Linked DNA regions of Homo sapiens: region 1 is linked to region 2. The links come from fine-mapping of genetic effects on gene expression. Tissue or cell type: sigmoid colon. Region 2 holds a variant in brackets; the other region holds the start of a gene. All regions are shown on one strand. Distances are from middle to middle.

The links. PIP is the estimated chance that this variant, and not a neighbour inherited with it, causes the effect.
Region 1: it holds the start of RXRG, and the variant in region 2 is fine-mapped to the expression of RXRG in sigmoid colon (GTEx, PIP above 0.99).

What each region holds. Positions count from the first base shown.
Region 1 is chr1:165,443,577-165,446,336 of GRCh38, forward strand. It overlaps RXRG (retinoid X receptor gamma), which reads right to left and starts at 1,550. Exons shown (of 10, transcript NM_006917.5): 1 at 1,269-1,550. The coding sequence starts at 1,317.
Region 2 is chr1:165,403,303-165,406,062 of GRCh38, forward strand. All of the region lies in intron 9 of RXRG (retinoid X receptor gamma), which reads right to left. Among named protein-coding and RNA genes, the nearest start is that of RXRG, 40 kb to the right of the region's middle. The variant C/T (reference allele first, on the strand shown) is at 1,207.

The DNA of each region.
Region 1 (2,760 bases), 40 kb after region 2:
TGTGCCTGTGTAACAAGCCTGCCCCAGTCCCAAAGGGCAGAGACTGTGTCTCATTCATATTTGTATTCCCAGTGCCCAACACCATGCCTGCCTCATAAAAACTACCCTGAATGAATGTGCAAACTCCCAGGTCTAACACCTCCTGGTGACAGAGATCACTTCTACCTTGCAGTGTGTCACCATGCCTCCCAGGGGGTTCTGCCCAGCCAAGTTAGGCAAGCTTTAGTCCCAAGCCTTCAGATGAATTGGTCCACGGAGGAAGTCTGGAGAGCAGGGACTTTTCAATTTTCAAAACCTTATAAGAATTTCTGCTGTCTTGCCTGCCAGAATCTTTCTTTGGCTCCCAGCAACATAAGCTGCATGCCTCCAACTGACAAGCGACAGGCCAGTTGGTCAGCTGTTGCTTCCATTTACTCAGAGCTGGGCGGCTGTACTGTTTCTGTCACTAAATCAAGGGATCCTTGGGACGGATGTGCTTGGGCGTTAAGGCAGCCTGAGGACCTAGTCTCCGGAAGCTTCTGTGAAGTGTGACTGGGCTGCCCTGCCTGGCACGGTGACTTGAATCTTCAGTTTGCCAATTCTCTAAGAGCCCCAACCCCCCATCCCCAGATCTCTACCCCCAGAGTGGAAGTGATTGCAGCAACTCTTGCAGTAGAATTGGGGGCAGCAGCAGGGGAGGAGAGAAGAGGCTATTAGCAAATCAAAGGAAAGAAAACAGGGGAAGGAAAACACAGTAGCAAATTAAAGCACTATGTTTTCTTTTTAAAAATCCAATTAAAGGGAAATCTGCTTTTGAGTAAAACAATCATGCCCTTGTTACAAAGTATCCCAGGAACCCTCAAGATAGGCAAAACCTTTTTAATCACATTTTTTCTCATTACAAGTTGGCTAATAGGAACATCATAGTAATTCCCCGTTAACTCTTCCACTTTTCACACCCGCACAAACACACTGGGTTATAACAATGCTCTTATTCTATCTTTGTCTCAGACACATTCTCAAGCATGTTGGTTTACTCTCTCCTTAGAATATCCCCGTATCCTCATTCTGATATGCAAACGTATCCTCACCTACAGACCATTCTTTCCTCCTCTCCTCTCTCATGCACGCGTGCACACACACGCTGAAACGCTATATACACACTATATATGCATATAAACATATATGTTCTCCTTTTAATTCAATACTAATCCAGTCATTCGTATTTCCCAATTTCTTCTCAGTCTCTCATACAGGTCCACGCAGTGAAGCCCAAGGGAGATACTTACCTCCATAGCCTGCGGGAAACTTCATGAAGTGAGAATAATTTCCATACATGTTTACTCGTCAGTTCATGTTCCTCTCCTGTGCAGCTTCTAAATATTACCGCCTCTCTCGGCTCCCAGGCACAGCCCGGCTTTCTTCAACTTGGGCTAACAAGAGTGGTCATCGCTTCCTAGCAGCCCGGGGAGCACAGGCTGGGCCAGCCCTCTGGGATTAGTCAGGAATCTGCCTCTAGATCGGAGAGTCCACATAGTGCGTTTGAGACGGCTGTGGCGGCAGCAGCTGGTGCCTGTCAGTAATCACGCATAATGCTGCCGCCGCCGCCGCCGCCGCCGTCACCGCTACTCTTGCCACCGCCGTCGCTGCTGCTTGAGATCCTGTTGCTAGTTTGATTAACTCAGGGTTGGGCTGCTGCGTGCGACTCTTCCAGCTCCCGGCGCGTCCCCAGAGGTCCCTACCGGGTGGCACGATCTATTATCTAGGAAGCCAATCGATGTATGACCGCCCGGTGTAGGTCAGGAGAGAGGCGGGAGACGGCAGGGGATGGAAGACTCTTTAGGTGCCTGTTCCTTGACTTACATCCACAAAAATCAATGGGATTTTATTAAAATGCATTTTCTCATTCGAACTTCTATCTGTCCAATGTACTTGGTATTTGATCTGTGAAAGGAGGAGGGGGTGGGGTTCAAGAGAGAACAGGGCCCTTTCAGAAGCACAAGATTAGAAAAGCGTGATACTCAATCTCCAGCTACGGAAAACTAAAATAGAGTAGCCCTTAAGTTGAGGTGGGCCTCTCCTGCTTGGGTGGCCGGAAGCATTTATCTGTGCTCTAACAATGGGAGTTTGACAAGTGCAGCTGGAGCCAGAGCTCACTCAGGTGGAAAACTTACAGGTAGGGAGGAGGGGTTGGCTTGATGTGGAGGTCTTTCTCTGCATTTATTTTATATACCATTGTTATCCTGCCGCCTGTTCAAAAACACCACTGGGTCCTCACTAACACAGAGCCTGTCTTGTGTGGAACTGACCCGAGATCAAAGAATCTAAGCACCCCGTTGATGTTTGGGTCTGTCATACAGTTTTCGTGACAAGTCACCGCTCAGCCTATACTTGAACACCTCCAATAATGGGGAGCTCACCACTTTCTCATTCCATTTCTAGATAGTTTTCACCACAAGAAAGTTTCTTATAGAGATAAAATCTGCTCCTTTTCCCTACAGCTTCTGCCCACAGGTGCTAGACTGCTCCCAGGGGCCACACAAGAGAAGCCTGAAAGACAAAAAAGTCTTTCACAGTGGGATCCTCTGCAAATCCTGAGATTGATCTGCTGTGCCCATAATCCCCCTTTCCCTAGGCATCTCTGGCTCTTTCAGTAATTCTATGTATCACCAAGGGTTCATGTCTATTCCCAACCTATCCTTTTTCTAATAATGTACTTCAGTTTACATAGATACCCTCACAGTGAGGAAGGGGGTTGGCCAGACTTGGATGCAATACTCC
Region 2 (2,760 bases):
GGACCAAAATCACTTTAGTCACTGTGGCCCTAAGTCAGAGATTTCTGGTTCCAGATGAATCTTTACTGAGTGTCACAACATTATTTCATGAAAAAGTTACAAATTAGAATTTCAATGTTCCTTGAAAATGTGTATATTTCTACACTTATGCCATAAGACATTTTAAAGAAATGTAGCAATACAAGGAAAATAAAGCGGCACCATCTAAAAAAGTAGAAATTGCTTCCCTACATGGAAAAATTAAAGATCTATGCCAATGCTACACATTACTTCAAAAGCCTCCAGTGGTAAAGCCCCTGAAAGCATTTGAGTGGCATCACCATTCAGGAAAGAGGTAGTTAGAGAATAAGGAGGCTGAACTCCCGGCCGTGCCTCTGCCGTTAAGCTTTATGGAAGTAGGCAAAGGAAACAGCTTCTCTGTAAGTACAAAGTTAGACTGGGATTAACTTTAAAAAATTTTTTTAACTCTAAAAAGGCCACGATTTTACAATATCTAAAATTCGAAGTATGCCATCATACTACCCTCTTTGTTGTGTGACCTGGATTTAGGAACTGAGATCAAGGCTAATAGAAATAAACACACCCATGAACGTCACAGCATTCCTCACCCACAGGTTAGCAGCAAGGGGCATTTATGCCTTTGAAGGTGCCTGCTGTGTGTGCAAGAGAGTGTGTGTGTGAGTTCTGTGACCTGACTTTTGATCTCTGCTTTCTGATCAGAGTGAAAGCAGAATGTGGCCCTTGTGACATGCACTTCTGAAATGTTTCCACAGAGTGGCAGCACTCTCCCACTGAGAAATCTGCCTCTACCTGGCTGTGCCAGGATCCCCTTCAACCAGGTTCTGCGGACCAGAGGTGACCAGCCCTCAGCACACCCACATGCCTGGCCAGTGACACCCCTGATGTACCTACTGAGCCAACTATGAACACTTGATCAGGGCAGTCAGCCTCAGTCCAAGCTGTGATGGACAAACCCAGGAGACTATGCAGGGGACTCTGCCACCTCCTTGCAGTTCTAAGTTCTGCCCTAGTCCTGGCAACAAGTGTTGGCCTCTCTCCCCAGAGTGTGGAGGCAGCCCAGCCCCCTGCCAGCCATATTCTGGCAGAAGAGTCAAGTTCCAAAGTTTTCAAAGTGATATGAATTAGAAACAACCCAAATGTCAATCACAGGGCGATGACTAAATACATTAGGATATGTTCACACTG[C/T]AAAATATTACAAAACCATTGAAAATGATAATTTGTAGTTGTCAGTAATTGAATAAAATTTCTAGAATGGCTAAGGGAAGAAAATAATACACCAAACTGTATAATTTCATATCTAGAAATGCATACATGACATGCGTAATACATAATAGTTACACGAGGATACACACGAGACATAATAGATACACGACAACACTGGAAAGAAATATACCAAAATATTTACAATAAGTTCTTATTACCTGTTTTTTGTTTTTGTTTTTGTTTTTGTTTTTGATGGAGTTTCGCTCTTGTCATCCAGGCTGGAGTGCAATGGCATGATCTCAGCTCACCACAACCTCCACCTCCCCGGTTCAAGCGATTCTCCTACCTCAGCCTCCTGAGTAGCTGGGATTATAAGCTCATGCCACCACACCTGGCTAATTTTTGTATTATTAGTAGAGACAGGATTTCTACATGTTGGTCAGGCTGGTCTTGAACAACCGACCTCAGGTGATCCGCCAGCCTCAGCCTCCCAAAGTGCTGGGATTACAGACATGAGCCACCGCATATTTTTAAAAAATATTTTTATAATTTTTTTAACCAAAGCATGCATTGCTTTTATAGTTAGGAAAAAAGTGAGTTGGAGTTTTTTGTTGGTTTTTTAAGATAAACAGCAAGACAGAGACAATTTCAGGAAAATGATATGTACGACTCTCATTATTTGTAATGTCCTGCACATAATATGTGCTCAAAAAATGGAAGATTTGATAGAAAGCATCCAACTCAGGGCTTCAATTAAGATGATTTGCCCAAGGCTCACACCTGACAGAGGCCAAGCTATTGCTGGCAGCCAGGTCCTGACCCCTTGGCCAGGGCTCTCTCAATCTCATCTATAGTGAACTACCAGGTTCACCAAAATCCAATATTTTCTTCTGTTCTTCGGCATACAACAGGATACATTCTCCAGCCTCCTTTGTGGCCAGCTGGGCCACGTGACTTGGCATCAGCTAATGAAAGTGAATGAAAAGGTGAGGGCCCTCTAAGACCGAGGTCTGGCCCATATGGCCTAGCCTCTCTGCCCCTCCACCTCTTCCCCCTTCCATCATCTGGATGCAAAACACAGTATGGCTCTGGGTCATGGTGGAGACACAAGAAAAAAGGAGTCTTGGTCCCTGAGTGATGGCATGCAAGGCAACCACCTCTCTGAACTGACTGCCCACCCAGATTTGTGAGCAAGGAATAGATGTTTGTGTTAAACTGGTGGCATCTGGTGGGTCTATTACAGCTTAATCTCACTAATATACTAGGCCCTGCCTATTCATTGCACCAAAGGGCCAAAACCCACCTACTCAAATTCATCCACAGCCTCCAACAAAAAACACAGCTCAGTCTCTTCTGGACAATTGCTAGAGGTTGGCTTATGATTCAGGATAAACAGCTAAGTAGATATTAGACTTCACAGAGGAATGGAAACCATTAGTGAGCATTGGGAGCATGTAAAATTAATCCCCCAAACAAAATTAATGTCTTCAAGACAGGCTTTTCCGTTTCATTTCCAATTTTCTATGAGATTTGAGG